2 separate regions of the Homo sapiens genome follow, and region 1 is linked to region 2. The links come from fine-mapping of genetic effects on gene expression. A gene starts in region 2. The other region holds a variant in brackets. All regions are shown on one strand. Distances are between the middles of the regions. Region 1 overlaps UBAP2L (ubiquitin associated protein 2 like). Region 2 holds the start of UBAP2L (ubiquitin associated protein 2 like).

What was found. PIP is the estimated chance that this variant, and not a neighbour inherited with it, causes the effect.
Region 1: its variant is the best candidate, but not a certain one, in a credible set for the expression of UBAP2L in whole blood (TOPMed, PIP 0.59).

What each region holds. Positions count from the first base shown.
Region 1 is chr1:154,236,697-154,245,103 of GRCh38, reverse strand. UBAP2L (ubiquitin associated protein 2 like) reads right to left here. Exons shown (of 27, transcript NM_014847.4): 8 at 7,968-8,080; 9 at 3,539-3,591; 10 at 1,802-1,887. Among named protein-coding and RNA genes, the nearest start is that of SNORA58B, 19 kb to the left of the region's middle. The variant A/T (reference allele first, on the strand shown) is at 3,489.
Region 2 is chr1:154,216,493-154,224,899 of GRCh38, reverse strand. It overlaps UBAP2L (ubiquitin associated protein 2 like), which reads right to left and starts at 3,945. Exons shown (of 27, transcript NM_014847.4): 1 at 3,925-3,945. LTAP1 (lipid transport auxiliary protein 1) reads left to right here and starts at 4,310. Exons shown (of 7, transcript NM_001098616.3): 1 at 4,310-4,558; 2 at 4,963-5,064. The coding sequence starts at 4,493. RefSeq lists silencers at 3,772-3,921, 4,782-4,851 and enhancers at 3,442-4,189, 4,172-4,611, 4,190-4,937.

The sequences.
Region 1 (8,407 bases), 20 kb before region 2:
AAAACTTAGCCTGGCGTGGTGGCGGGTGCCTACTATACCAGCTACTCGGGAGGCTGAGGCAGGAGAATCGCTTGAACCTGGGAGGCGGAGGTTGCAGTGAGCCAAGATTGTGCCACTGCCCTCCAGCCTGGGCAACAGAGTGAGACTCTGTCTCAAAAAAAGAGACCAGGTAAGAGTGTTGGAACTTTCAGAAGCCCCTCCCAATCCCACCAAATTCCAGGGGTGTAGGCGAGGTGGCTATTAAGTCCAATCACCAATGGCCAATGATTTAATCAATCATGCCTAGGTAATAAAACTCATAACAATAAGATTTGGAGAGCTTCAGGATACCTGCAGAGGACAAGGAGGTTGTGTGTGCCCCACCCACATACCCATTCATACCTTGCCCTACTCATTTCTTCCGTTTAGCTGTTGCTGAGTTGTACCTTTATAATAAACCAGTAATGGGCCAGGTGTGGTGGCTCACACCTGTAATCCCAGCACTTTGGGAGGCTGAGGTGGGTGGATCACCTGAGGTCAGGCTGGCCAACATGGTGAAACGCTGCCTCTACTAAAAATAAAAAATTAGCTGGGTATAGTGGTGCATGCCTGTAATCCCAGATACTAGGGAGGCTGAGGCAGAAGAATGGCTTGAACCCAGGAGAAGGTTGCAGTGAGCCAAGATCACGCCACTGCACTCCAGCCTGGGTGACAGAACAAGACTCCGTCTCGTCTCAAAAACAAAAACAAAAAAACAGTAACGGCAAGTAAAACTCCTGAGTTCAGTCATTCTAGTGAGTTATCAAACTTGAAAGGCGGTCATGGGAACCTCCAAATTTGTAGCTGGCTGGCAGAACCTCTGAAGTTGGGGCACTCTTGTAGAACTGAGCTTTCAACTTGTGGGGTCTGCATTAACTCTGGGTAGTTAACGTCAGAACTGAATTTTTGAGCTATCAGGCTCAGGTCTAGAAAAAATCCAAGAGGTTTCCAGCGAATTAAAAATATTCCCTGAAGAGTGTATCTCCTACCACTGATCCCTAGAGATTTAAATTCTAAAACGTTTATTAGCTGGATCCTGCTGATCCAAAGGAAAAAAACAACTGTTATACTCAGTGGGCTCAGAGAACAGGAGAATAAACTGCTGAACAGTTCTAAAAGATTCAGAAATAAATGAAAACATTTCCACTTTTGGCTCTTCTTTCCCTGACTTACTTCAAAACAAGTTATATACTCAATGCTGGTGATATGAAAGGCTGATCTTTGTAATTAAAGTGCTATTTGCAGGGAGAATCAACTTTAAAATTGTAACATATCAACTTCCATTCAGCAGATTAACTAGTACTAACTCTTAGAAGTCTCTCCATCAACTGGCGCGGTGGTTCATGCCTGTAATCCCAGCACTTCGGGAGGCAGAGGTGGGCGGATTACCCGAGGTCAGGAGTTCGAGACCAGCCTGGCCAACATGGTGAAACACCGTCTCTACTAAAAATACAAAAATTAGCCAGGCGTGGTGGCACACGCCTGTAATCCCAGCTACTCGGGAGACTGAGGCAGGAGAATTGCTTGAGCCCAGGAGGCAGAGGTTGCAGTGAGCCGAAATCGTGCCACTGCACTCCAGCCTGGCCGATACAGTGAGACTCTGTCTCAAAAACAAAAAAAAAAAGAAGTCTCTCCATCAACTTAAGAGGAATGTAATGATGTAATGTAATTTGGTTATTATTATTGACACCATGGGAGTTTACAAAGGCCAGTGCCACTTCTCTTTACAGTAATCTCAGCAGATGTGTTTAAGAAATGGTACTAAATTTTACTGCACACTTGCCTCTGACCAGCAGTGATTGTCACATTCTCCGCAGGCAGAGGCACTGAAGACACATTAGAGGCAGTGAAGATCTTGGTCTCAGAAAGCTGGAAAACAGAGGGATTAGTCACTCTTGGTGTCAGGGATGCTACAGTCAGAAACTTGGCATAGGTAAGGGGAATTCAACATCAAGAAAAAGTGAAAGCCCTATAAAGAGAAAACTATCTACCCTGAGGAATCCTGAATGGATTGACTTTCAAGCCCTTCAATATATGCTCAATAGTTTTAGCCAAAGAAAGAGTAGAAGCAAGGAACCCAATAAAATATAGTGGAGTCACATGATCATATGCATACTGAACTTACAGGCATGCTAGACATAAAAAAAAAAAAATAAAAGAAAGAAAATCCCTCTATATTTTCCCATTACAGTTCCCAACTCCCACCTCTTCCCAAACCACATTTGTCTTCTACTACTCCCTTCACAGCCCCACCCCTCCCAAAGAAAGATCATAACCAAGATGAAGAAATAAATAAAAGAAGTTCATTTTTAGCTTTTGAGCAGTAAGGGCCCAAGTGCTGCTGAATTAAGGTTTTTATGGGAGATCGTTTTAACTAGATGTTATTTTTGCCTTAATATTTGACTTTGTGACATCTAGTCCTTCCACTATTAAGGCATCAAACTTAGGTAAGCAAATGCAGGGATTAACTTTTCCTACTATTCAAAAGTTGATTTGGGTTTCAGTTTTATTTCTTGATTAAAATCGCTAAAGCACAGAAAATCCACTCTCCCCTCAATGCCCAACACCATTTATCATTCTCTGAAAGTTGCTTAAGCGGACAAGCCAAATCTCAGAAAGGAACATAATTTGCCCATTTTCACAAAGCAGTCTAGTTCATTGATTATACAATAGAAAATAATCACCCTGTGATGCTGATGCCTCTGAAATTTAAAAAACCCAGAATTGGCAACCAAAACAGTCTTCACATGTCATTTCCTCTTATCACAAAAGCTGTCTTGCCTAACTACATGAAAGTATAGAAAAGTACATAGATTAAAAATGTTAAAACAAGAGTTTATCCATGATCACTGAAAACCATAATTCACAGCAGAAGCTTGACTGTGACCAGGAATCAGCAAAATTCTTACTCAGGTAGTACTCAAATGAATTCACAGAGCTTGTTTACGTGCCACCCATCTATGAGGTTTCCAAGTTAAGTCAAGCTGGCAGATAGCCAATTCTACAGATATTCATCTCAATCACAATTATACAGTTGGGCTTCAAATAAATACAAGGGTTCCAGAGTCAACCAGATTACAAGTTTGAGGATTTGGTACCACAACACTCGCTTTGGATCCACTGCCAATCCATTACAGGACCTTATAGCAAATACTTAAATGCACCAAGTAGTCATGTACCACCAGCAGCTGTTACTCAATGCACTACCTGCCTAACTCCACTTCTGGTGCCCTACCCAACCACCAATCTCTTCCTGGGATAAATCCGACAATCAGATATTGGACTTACACAAGTGCACTTGCCCTTTCCATAGTGTGGTTCCACAGAGTCCTGTTCATGCCCAGTCTCCTTCATATAACATATGTGAAATGTTCTGGCTCAGAACACTATTTTGGATGTAAAAGTTTTGGGTCAGAATCTTAAGGGTGAATTTTGAGGGGTAGAAACATACCCATTTTCTATCCCTAAAC[A/T]ACACTTAGGGATAGAAGGCATTAGTGAGGAATGACCTGGGAATACCTACATCTTCATTCCAATCTTCAGTCCCCCACTCCTCTGTTGCAGTCCTCCATGCACCTGAGAATAAAGAAAAATAGTGAAGTAACTTCACTATTAAATGCCAGTACAAAGCATGTATAGAAAACATCAATGTATTAATTTTTTTGGCAGCCAAAAGTATGACTAAAATTTAGTAATCAGAAGGCCAGGTGTGGTGGCTCACACCTATAATCCTAATACTTTGAGAGGCCGAGGTGGGTGGATCACTTGAGGTCGGGAGTTCGAGACCAGCCTGACCAACATGGAGAAACCCTGTCTCTACTAAAAATACAAAATTAGCTGGGCGTGGTGGCACATGCCTGTAATCCCAGCTACGCGGGAGGCTGAGGCAGAAGAATGGCTTGAACCTGGGAGGTGGAGGTTGCAGTGAGCTGAGATCGCGGCATTGCACTCCAGCCTGGGCAACAAGAGTGAAACTGTCTCAAAACAAACAAAAACAAAAAACAAAACAAAAAAAAAGAAATTCTTGGGCTTCAAAGGTAAGGAAACACTCTTTAGAAAAGGATATCTCAGAGTACCAGGGTTTTAATAAGATTATGATTTCATAGCTACTTTCAGTTTTTGTTACAAAGCAGGAATGGGGGTGGGGGGGGGGACAGACAGACAACCACCCAATGCTCAAAGCAGTATCTTTAAGGTCCTCAGGTTGATTTAGTGGTCAATTCAGTGAAATGGCAGCAGCCAATTTAAACCATAACATGCAAACTACACCTATTTATCTAGTATAAGACAAAAAATACTGTAGGCAGTCTGAAGAAGGATAGTAGCACTGATAGAGAAACACAAATGGTTACCACATAATGGTTAGTGAAAGAGCAGTGAAGAAGGGTGGGTTTGAAACCCGAACTGAGGGCATTGAAAACTATCTGCTATGAGAATTAGATTAAAAATGCATACTCAGCAGAAGTCAAGTTTATAGATCTTATTGGTTTAACTGTATAAGAAAAGCCCCTATAGAGCTGTCCTCTTCAAAAGACAATGAACAAGACTGAAAAATCAGGTATGAATGATAGTTACTGTCCTAACCTTACTCATATAGAACTTGAAACCTGACCTGCTATGGTCATGGCACAGACAACGGGAGTATACACTGTCCTTGTGTTTGTTGGTAATACGGAAGCTGGGATACAGTTTCTACTGGAGAAATCCAAAAGCAATCAAACCACCTTCCACATTCCTTTTTTGTGCTTCATGTATACATATATTTTCAGAAAAAAAAAAATGTCCTTTCTTAAAAAATAAGGGTGAGAATTTCTAACAAGAACCAGGATTCTTCCCTTCAGCCAAAGGCACAGTAAAAACAAGAACCTGTCTGAAGAAGGGACAAGAGCACCCTTATTTTCTTGCTAGAATAATATATATTAAATAACTCTTCAATCCTTCCCTCCTACTGGAAAAAAGCTTATAAGAATGAAATGAAAAGTCTGACATTCAGATGCTGTGCCACTGAAGAGAAGTATTCTAACACCACATTAGAAGTATTCTAATACAAAGCCCATCTAAAATTCTTCTAAACATTTAATAATGCAAAAATCTTCTTTCTTAGAGGAAAATATATTCATTGTAAAGACTTTCCCAGGAAAATATTAAAATTGCACCAGGGAAATCCTAAACCACTTAATAATGACAATATTCTCAAAACCAAAGTCCAATCTCAGTACAGACAAGTTACAAACCACATTCTTTTCTCCTTCATTGATACCACACTTTCTTCTCATTGACATCCATCTTATCCTGGCTCGATGGAATCCAAGTTGCATTAGCACTTATACACAATCCTAGAGTTAGACATGATCTAACAGGTTATTTAATCTAGGCTCTTGATGCAAGAATTTTTTTCTGCACACTGATGACTTCAACTGGGATGGAAAGGAGGAACGTAGACACCTAACTGGTATGTTCCTATTCAGGATATACGGTCATGGCTGAGGAAGAGAGAGAGCTGAGGAAGCATTAAGGAACAGAATAGATGGAAATGCTCTAAACAACAGACTAGGGTTTCCATTCCATTAGCAGAAAGCAATCAGTGTAACTGTCAAATATTCATTAAATGAACAGAAAGGTAAGTGGACACAGAAAAATGAGAGAAAAAGGCAGAAAGAGAAAAAGCAGAAAGACATAAAAATGACATATCCACAGATATTTCAGCTCATAAAAATCTACAAAAATATCTGGGGCAGTTAGGCACCTGGATGTATCATACCAGGAGCAGTCTGGGGGATAATTTTGGGGGATAATTTGACCCCTCAACCCCAATGAAATCAAGTCCTGAAACAAAAAAAAAAGAAAAGAAAAGAAAAAACAACCAGTGAAATTTTGCTTGTAAATGAGAAAGTCTGCCCCAATACATAATCCCCATTGTACCTGTGGATATTTTAAAGGTAGGTTTGGATTTTTTTTTTAATTTAAAGGGGAAACTCAAGTTTGCTATCAGGAAAACACAAAAAGAAACCATGCATGAAGGTATGTTCATATCATGAAATTAACAACGACCAGGCGTGGTGGCTCACACCTGTAATCCCAGCACTTTGGGAGGCCAAGGCAGGTGGATCACTTGAGGTCAGGAGTTTGAGACCAGCCTGGCCAACATAGTGAAACCCCATCTCTACTAAAAATACAAAAATTAGCCAGGCGTGGTGGCGTGCACCTGTAGTCCCAGCTACTCAGGAGGCTGAGACATGAGAATAGCTTGAACTCAGGAGGCAGAGGCTGTAGTGAGCCAAGATCGCACCACTGCACTCCAGCCTGAGTGACAGAGCAAGACTCTGTCTCAAAAAAGAAAAAAAGAAAAGAAAAAAAAAATTAATGACAATGGGAATTCATGAAGCTATAACCAACACTTTTGCACTAACAAGACGATAGTGGCGTCACATTCAGCTACAAATCAGATTTCCAATTCCAGCCTTGCACATCTGCTCCCTTTTCTACTCAGTAGAAATTAACACACACACTACCTTTCGCTGTTTTTCCAACCAGATCCTTACTGAAGACAGCGAAGGCTAAGGACTGGGACCCCATGCCTGAATTTCTATTCACAACTAAAAACAAACTTTTCAACTTCTGCCATCTTACCTGCCAAAGATAAAAAGCCAAATACCCAGGAATAAGCTACAGCTCAAAAACAGTAACTTATTTGTTATTGAGACTGCTACCACTGCCTCTACAAAGCCATCAAGAGATGAATGAAGAACAGTTCTAATGCCTCCGAAGTATAGTAAGTTAAACTATAACAGGACATTTCGTAACTAAATGATGCAGAAATTCAAAGATACCTATCTTGTAACTCAACTTCAGCCTCCACCCATGAAATGTGTTAAAAATGAATTTATAAGATAGCAACTTGGCGAACAAAAAGCAGACGACATTCAGAGCCTCAGGAATAATATATTGTAGGAAAAAGGTGGAAAACTATTTGTGCCAAAGGCTCTCCTAAAGGCCCAGAGATCACGTATCTGTGAAAGGTGACAAGGCAAATTTAAACAGGTAAGGAGTCAAACATTTCAGGCCCTACTCATCCCCCTTTGTAAGAGGAAAAAAAGCCTTAGGCTCTCATGTGTTAGCTCAGCCAGAATGAGGCAGCTGTTCAAGAAAGCACTCCAGAGTTTTCTTACTAAAATGAACTGCTCTTATTGAAAGTGGCACACGTATCCACCCCCAAACACATCTTAGGTGTATACCACAGCTTAACATATCCTTAAACATTTATATCCAGCCCAGACGCAGGCACCAAAGTCAGTTAACAAAAAAGTAATCTTATTCAAACCCTGAATACTCCATCACACCAAGAAGGCTGTTCAACAGGGCACCAGAAAGGCTAGAGAGATTTCGAAATCTTCTTGTTCAGATACTGACATGTCCCAAAAATAAAGGGAAAAAAAGGATATTCTTATCTCAGTAACAGAAAACAAATAAATGGATAGTGTGGACTTTGATTCTAGGCCTTGTTCATCTTTACAAGCAGTGGCTTGATTAATTCTGGCTATCTTTTCAAAAGGCAACACTACCCTAACATAAACACTAGAAAATACACTTGGACCTAATAGCAGTGACATAGCATAGTTGAAAGGGCATGGACTTTCAGGGTCAAACAATGCTGAGTTCAAATACTAGCAAATTTATAACCTCTCTTTCGGCCTTAGTTTTGTCATCTGGAAAGTGATGATAAATAATGATTATTTCATACAATATCAAGCAGCATTAAGCGAAATAACATGTGTAATGTGCCCATATGCACGTTACATAAACAGTACACACAGTAATACAACTGCCAGCCCTTTCTCACCCTATCTCCATAACCAAACACTATTCTTCCACGTTTTAATGTAAGTATAATCAGAAAAAACTATTTCCTTAGATTCCCAGAGACAAGAAATGAATGATAAATGGTCACTCACTCGTCCCATCATCTGGTTCAAAGTGGCCAGTGTTGTTCCACGTATTGCCGCTGCTATTGCCATAGTTATCATCAGTATTGGCTGGCTCTGCATAATCAGCTGGGTTAAAGGTTCTGGAAAAAATAAAACTTAAGAGTCTCTGACCTCTAAGCAGCTTTGGCAAATATTAACTCAAAGAATCAAAATCTTGACTGCATCCTTCCTAGTACAAATCTGTCATGGCCCCATTCTATAATCCTGTGTGTCATCTACTTTTTCTCACTTATCACTCTACCCAAAATTTCATGGTATAATCTCAACATATATCTAAGATATTCTGAGAAAAGAACAGGTATATTGATTCAAATAAAGATATATAAAATATAGGTAATGATCCAGGTGGTAAAGGTTTATCCCTAAGAAATGAGCCCTAAGTCCCCATATCTTTCTGACCAGTCTAG
Region 2 (8,407 bases):
TTATGTAACAAGAAATGTATAAAGCATGTGTAAGTGATGGATTTTTTTAAGAAGTTACAGCAGTTTGGTTACTAGTCCCCCATAAGCAGACTTTACATTTAACTAATAATCAAAAGCCTTTTACATAGATGCAAGTATCTGAAGTACCTTTGACAGAAGGAAAGATAATCAGTAAAGTCTGGAAACAAAAACCTTCCAGGAAGGAGATTAGTCTACACTCCAGAGAAATAATTTTAAATACTGTATTCAATCACCTAAGAAAACAGCCTTACCTGCCTTACAACCTTTTTTATGTAAGCTGCATGTGACCTCCATTGCTTGGGAAAGGACAAGTTCAAGTCTAGACTCTTCTTTGTCCCTCAAGTTTCATCTCTCTCAGTATGCTATGGGTTTGTTTTGTGTTTGTGGGGGTTTTTTGTTTTTTTAAACCACAGCCTTCAACAGGGTACGTATTAGCCCCAATGACTTTGTCCAGAATCTCTGTTCTCTGGAAAATAATTCCAACACACTGCTTTTACAGGTGCTTCTCTTGGTCTCCTAGTCCACATTTTCAAGAAACCAAAATGGCAATTACCCTCCACCACTCACCTTAATATACAGGGAATCTCAAATTTGTCTCAAACCAAAAGCATCTAGCACAAAGTTTTATTTGGAAGAAAGTGCTTCTAAGAAATCATTTTAAACTTGAGACCTTAATGCTGGCAAGATGACTTAGTTGAGTCTTTAAAGAGACACAGAACACACAGGGCCTTCCCCAAACCAGAATATAGTTTTTGTTACAAGACTTCTAACAAGGAAGGATTCTACTGAATTCAAGTTCCTTTAGTTCATACTTTGTTTTATAATACAATCTCAGCTGCTGCATTTAGTAAAAAAGAAAACATTAATCATATGATAGAGTGTTCAAAATAATAGGTTACTCTGCATTTATTCCCTTCCAAAGAGGGTAAGTTTATACTTTTCTGCTCTATATTTAATTTTTCTTGTTAATGAAACCTTATACAACGTAATTCTAGACTGCCCAGAGATATTACTGGATTTGAGTGGGAGGAAGGACTTCTAAAGAAATATGCAAGGATTAACTATTAGGGAAGTGAATTTCATCTGACTTTCTTGGATGTCACAGAGAAAGCTGACTTTTTCTGTGCATAAATTCTTCACCAAGTTGCGTCAATAGGTTGCATAGGTCTTTGTATCAAGAAAGATTTTTTTAAGGTAGCTTCTCAGGTAATTTTTAACCCATTACCTCTTCCCCCTACACATATTGGCACACAAAAGCCCATAAGTATTTCAAGCTAGAAAGGATTATTTGCTACACAGTAGCCCATTTTCCCAGGTTAGCATTATAGTCGTTTCAACTTTACAAAAAAAAAAAATGTTTAACCAAGTACCCCGAATCCAAATCAACAAGACTACATATACACATATATACGTATATATATAAAGACGAGAGGAAAACTATTTTGTTTTAAAATTGGCTCTAAGATGAAGTTTCTAATATGGCATAGTCATTTCCAACCCACTACTGTAACTTACAAATATTGACTGTTTTCTACTCCACATGTGATATCTATTTGTGAGGATAAGTTATATTGCAGGTATAAACTGCATGACTAGCTATACACTATTGCATATACTGTACCAGTCAGATGTAAACATATTAAAAAGTCATCTTGAAAGATATAATTAACCAAGAAAGAAAAAAATTCTCCTAATCACTCTTGCTAGTAACATTTCCCTCTTACAAGTGCTTCGAAATGTGACTAAGAAAATTTTTACCACCTAGTAGTGACAACACTGAGCAACAGGTCAAAAGTAAGTGATCTGGAATGGATCACTTGAGGGCACAGAATTAGTAGCAAGCAGACCCATTCCCAGCTATCACACTGGAGATGAAGAATCTTGTTACTTACTTGCTCTTTCTTAGAAAATAAAAAGATTTAAAGGAAGTAGGGTGAGAAGTATTGGAGACCAAGGAAATCGTGCGAGAGTAAACAGAGGTTTCAACACAGGAGTGCCCTTGACTCTTTTTTGAAAACTAGCTACTTAAAAAAATAGCCAGAGAAATTTCACTGAAAAAACTAAATAACAAATATTTATTGAGAATCTACTATGTGTCCAATACTTCAGGAAAATACAAAAGCAGTATGACTTAGTAGCTGCCCTCAGGGAGCTTACAATCTAATTTAAGAAACAATTCAGAAACTGAAGCTAGACTGAGTTGGGTAAAATTTGCTACCTCTAACAGAACAACTAATTTCTGTAGATGCTTTGTTGAAATGGCCCCTGCATCCCCTTCCCCACCACCTTGATATCTAGTTAGTAAGAGTACTTCCCAGTTAGGACATAGCAAGGAGGAGCTTTAAAGATGAAAAACAAAACAGGACATTTTTAGGCCTTTCATCACTAGTTTATGTGCCAGCAATATTTCCCATTCACAAAGGAAACAATCATTGAGATAGTCTAATCTTTAAGGACAATGGTGTCAGATCTCAAAGCAGTTTTATCAACTGATACACAGCCAAAATGTTTTAATTCTCTGTAATCATTGGGATAGTCTAATCTTTAAGTACAATGGAGACAGATCTCAAAGCAGTTTTATCAACTGATACACAGCCAAAATGTTTTAATTCTCTAGAAACGCTGGTTACTAGTAATGTCCATCACCTCCCAGCAAGTCACATCAGGTATCCCCAAAACAGGATATGCGGCGGAGGAAGGTAGGATGGGAGAGAAGACAAAAAAAAAGGATTTCTCCATTTAATAATCAGGGAGAGTCAAAGGCAAAAACGTTAACAATAATAACAAAAACGCCTGTTACTGTGGTGTTTTTCTTTCCACAACATCCTACACCAGAGGTGGCTACATTTCAAGAATGGTGGAAAAGGAGCAGTCTCCAGTTTGTGACATCAGTTTGCAAAGCAATTTAAGGGCTGTCCACAAGGTTAAGGGTTTGAAGAAACTGGGCATTCCTGTACCATTATGAGAAGAGTGAACAAATACCCCAGTGCTCTAGTGACGTCCCTTAAGCGTAAATACACCCTATGGGGGCCTCCATGTCCAGCTTCCCAAATAACACAATTGTTTGGGGTACCCAAACTACAGTATAAACAGGAAGCTAAAGACAGCAGCAAAAACATATTCCAAGAACTGGGTTGGTGAGAAAGAAGGGAGGGTAATAAGAGGAGCTGACAAAGAGCCTGGAAACGGAGAGGGGACGCAAGCCCACGGGTGGAGGATGGGAGGCTCACCCCCCTCAGCGCCACATCGAGAGCCCACGGGGCCAATCTCCTCCCTACCTCCCAGCCGGAACAAATTAATCCTTCGCACACCAAACTGAGGGCCACATGGGGGAGTTTGGGGGAGCTCCACCCCATCGCCCTCCCTCCCCCACGCCACCCCCAAACCAGGCCGGATCCGGATCAGAGGAGGCCCGCAGTGGGTGGAAAGGGAGGAGGCCCTCTCCTCCGCAGGCACCGGCCGGGGTGAAGAGAGAGCCCTACCTCAGGCAAGGCCCAGGCCTCGCTCGCTCGCGCTCTTTCTCGCTCTCCCCTCTCAGGCTCTAGCCGCATGGCCCCCCCTTCCTACGGCTGCTCCAAGCCCCGCCCCGGCCACGCTCCCAAATCGAGGCCCCGGCTCTGGCGCGGCCCACTAGGCCGCGAACCCAACCATAAACAAAACCTCCGGGGGCCGACTCGAGGTGGGGGGCGCCAGGGCTCGCATGACTCGGGGGGGGGTGTACAGTGGGGGAACACACGGTGTGGGGGGGCCTACCGAGGGAGGGGATACGGCGGGGGCAGGGGAGAAAAGAGGGAGGGTAAAAGGGGGATCGCGGATTTAAAGGGGCCGCGGACAATACCCGGCCCCGCCGCGCTGCCGCTGCCGCCGCCGCCGCCGCCAACGCCGCTGCGCTCCCAACTTTACCTCAGTCTCCTCCACACTGACACCCCGGGCCGCGCCGCCCCTGTCACGTGATATAAGATTCCCTCTTCCCCACCCCCTCCCTCCTTTTCCCTCTCGCGCTCGCTCTCGCGCCTTCCCCCGCCCACTTGCCTTCCTGCGTCCCTCAGCGCGTGACGCTAAAAGGGGCGCGCACGCAAGCGTGCGCGTGCCGCCTCGCCACGAGACACCTCTTTCCGGCTCCGCGAGTCCACCCCGCCTCCTTCACGGCGGCCCTGCCTCCACCACGTGACGCACGGATGGCCGCCGCTTCCTCTTACTGTCGTAGTTCCGCGTCTGAGCGCTCGACGCTCCTGGGTGCCATTGCCTGCCTGAGTCACGTGTCAGGGGGAAGCTGGAAGGCGTCGTTCTCCTTTCCCAGCTCTCCTGCCTGTCCGCCATGTTTTCAGGCCGGGTCTGGCTTGGTCTTCCCCCGTAAGGAAATGGCCGGGGAGCTCCAGGGGACCCAGGCGCCGTCGCTTCGGCGGAGCCTGGGCTGACCAGCCAGGACAGCGGGGTAAACCCGAACAATTCTGCGCGAGGTAGGGAGGCCATGGCGTCCGGCAGTAACTGGCTCTCCGGGGTGAATGTCGTGCTGGTGATGGCCTACGGGAGCCTGGTGAGGAGATTACCCCACCCCATTCCTGCTGTCGCATCTTACCCAGTAGAGACCCTCCTTTTGAGCTGTACCCCGTCTGCATTCTCCACCCACTCACCTGCGCCTATCCGGGCTTTGACTCCTTATTCCAGGAGTAGGTGGGAGTTTAAGTCACTTAGTCGGGCCGACCCGCCCTCGTTAGTCTAGAACCCTCCCTTTAACGCTAGAGCACAGACCCCACGCCTCCCTGCTGCTGGCTTCTTAGATCCACCCCCATCATAACGGCCTTGCTTTGCCCCAAGTTTTACCCTGAAACATTCCTGAGAGCCGGAATCTGGGGATTTGGAATGAAGGCATGCTTTTTTAAAAAAAAAACAAAACAAAACTGACTTTTTATTAAAGGATTTTTACATCTTTTTGGACAGGTGTTTGTACTGCTATTTATTTTTGTGAAGAGGCAAATCATGCGCTTTGCAATGAAATCTCGAAGGGGACCTCATGTCCCTGTGGGACACAATGCCCCCAAGGTAGGTCCTTAGGGCACAAGTTAAACATACTTCTCCAGATCTTTTAGGGTCAAGAATGAGATTTCCTCTGCCTTTAGTGATGACTTTAATTCTCATGTTTCTTTGCGTGCACTTGTCCTTGTACTTACTAAGTTGAGCAGGCACTGTGCGCTTTGGAACTTGGCTTACCTGCTCAGTGCTGTGGCAAGCATGTGGCTCATCCTGGAACTTCTGTTTTTGTATCTGCAGAATGAAGGGCTTGGGTCGAAGTTCCCAACTGTTTGTAGTAAAATATTTCCCAGCTCATCTTAAACTACCCAGTGTTTTTTGTTTGATTAGGATGGGGTTGAGATCATTAAGGTTAACCCAAGAGCAATGAGAAGGGTTACCTTTACATAATTTTAGACTTAAGAGGAGCTCCATAAATCATCTAATTCCACCATTCATGTTACCAAGAAGCCCAAGAAAAGGAGGCAGTTTACCAGAAGACGTATAGGAAGTGAATAACCCAGTGGTCTTTTATCTTTGTCTGTACTTTCTCCTTAGGTGACTGTCTTCCTTTCCTTGGCTTTAGCTACAGATGAAATTTTATCTCTATCCTAGAACTCTTTCCTGAGTTCCTTACATATATTGCCAACTGATTACCTGACATTTCCACTTAGATTTGTAGTAGACATCTCAAACCCAACATTTGTGAATCAGAATTATTGCTATCCCACTGCCACTCTCATTCTGCTTCTTTAGTCTTTCGCTTCTAAGTAAAAGACACCTGCTTCCCTTACCAACCCCCTTTTGTGTGGCTCTCCCCAGATCACTGGGACCCAGCTCCACTGGCTGAATTTTCCACCCTTTTTGCTCCTGTGATCTGGAATGGTCTTCAATTGGCTAGCTCATTCATTCTTTTGATCTTAGCTTAAATGTTACTTCCAAAAAAGGAATGCTTATTACCTATTTTAAAGTAGGTTCCCCCTCTCTTTATTTTCACATGGTACCCTGATTTTTCCTTCATAGCATTTACCATAATTTTTATGTTTGTCCATTTGTTTAAAACATGCCTCTCTCTTCCGCTAGACCGTAAGCTTCAAGAATGCAGGCACCATGCCAGTTTTGTTCACGACTATAAAGCCAGGACCTACACATAGTAGGTACTCAGTAATTTCTTGTTGAATGAAAAACAGGTTAGTGCCAGGGCCTACACATAGCAGGTACTCTGTAATTTGTTGCTGAATGAAAAACAGGTTAGTTGTAGAGCTAGAGCTCATGACTCCCTCAACTCCTAGAGCACTGTACTTTCATTAACAAGTGCTATTAACCTTCCCCTCTTTGTTCTTTGCTGACATAGTACATGAAAAGGCTCTAGGAGGATGTCCTGGCTTGAAACCTTAACAGTCCTGCCTGCCTCATGAGAAAGACATAGGGTTAGTTTCTAGCACATCATGAACCAATCAATACTTTGGCTATTCAGGGGTCCCTTGGTCTAGTTCAGAGCAATATTCCTTTTGCTTAAAAATTTTTTCTAAATTCTCAACCATTGCTAGTGAAAGTATAAATTAGTAAAACCACTTTGGAAAATAACTGGTCATTGTCTGGTAAGATTGCACATGTACCTAATCCATGGTCCAACAGTTTCTCTCCTACCATAGAGAAATTAAGTTTTGCTCATGTGTACCAAGAAACATGTGCAAGATTATTTATAGGGGCATTGTTCATAATATTTGAAGAAGAAACTTAATTCAAATGTCCACTTTTCAATTATTATATAGGCTGAGTGCAGTGGCTCATACCTGTAGTCCTAGCACTTTGGGAGGCTGAGGCCAGAAGATCATGTGAGCCCAGGAGTTACAGACTGCAGTGAGCTATGATTGCACTGATGCACTCCAGCATGGGCAAGAGCAAGACCTTGTTTCTAAAAAATAGGTAGTGGTATATTCATATTCTGGAATAGTGTAAAAAATGAAAAACTGAAGATAAATATATGAAGACAAGTCCTCAAAATACTTCTGAATGAAAAAAATTGCAAACATGAATCTCAAAAACATGCTGAGTGGGCCGGGCATGGTAGCTCATGCCGGTAATCCCAGCACTTAGGGAGGCCGAGTTGGGCAGATAACACTTGAGGTCAGGAGTTCGAGACCAGACCAGCCAACATGGTGAAACCCAATCTCTACTAAAAATACAAGAAAAAAATCCTAACTACTCGGGACGCTGAGGTAGGAGAATCCCTTGAACCCAGGTGGCAGAGGTTGTAGTAAGCTGAGATCAAACCACTGCACTCCAGCCTGGGTGACAGAGCGAGACTCTGTCTCACCAAAAACAAAAAAACCATGCTGAGTGAAGAAAGCCAAAATGCCGTTCACAAGAGAATATGTACCATGTGCTTCCACCCCATTTATATGAAATTCTAGAACAGGCAGAACTGTAAAAGAGTACATCATGTTGCCTGGGCTGGGAGAGGGGAGATTTCCAGGTGATGAAAATATTCTTTACTTTGATTGACGTGGTGGTGAAGGGGGTATGTTCATTTGTCAAACTCATCAATTTATATACATAAAATGAATGCATTTATTGTATGTAAATTCAACCTCAATAAAGTATATTTGAAAAATTTTGCTGGGTGCGGTGGCTAACGCCTGTAATCCCAGCACTTTGGGAGGCTGAGGCAGGTGGATCACCTGAGGTCAGGAGTTCAAGACCAGCCTGGCCAACACGGTGAAACCCCGACTGTACTAAAAATGCAAAAAAATTAGCTGGGCGTGGCGGTGTGTGCCTGTAATCCCAGCTACTCAGGAGGCTGAGGCAGGAGAATCACTTGAGCCCCGGCGGAGGTTGCAGTGAGCAGAGATCACACCATTGCACTCCAGCCTGGGTGACAGAGTGAGTCTCTGTATCAAAAAAAAAAAAAATTTAAGGCCAGGCGAGGTGGTTTACACCTGTAATCCTAGCACTTTGGGAGGCCGAGGCAGGCTGATCACGTCAGCTCAGGAGTTCGAGACCAGCGTAGGCAATATGGGGAAACCCTGTCTCTATAAAAAGTTTAAAAATGGGCCAGGCGCGGTGGTTCACGCCTGTAATCCCAGCACTTTGGGAGGCCCACATGAGAAGATCACAAGGTCAGGAGTTTGAGACCAGCCTGGCGAGCATGGTGAGACCCCATCTCTACGAAAAATACAAAAAATTAGCTGGGCATGGTGGCATGCGCCTGTAGTCCCAGCTACTTGGGAGGCTGAGGCAGGAGGGCAAGGAGAATTGCTTGAACCCAGCAGGCAGAGGTTGCAATGAGCCAAGATCATGCCACTGTACTCCAGTCTGGGTGACAGAGCAAGACTCCATCTCAAAAAAAAAAAATGTTTAATAATTAGCCATG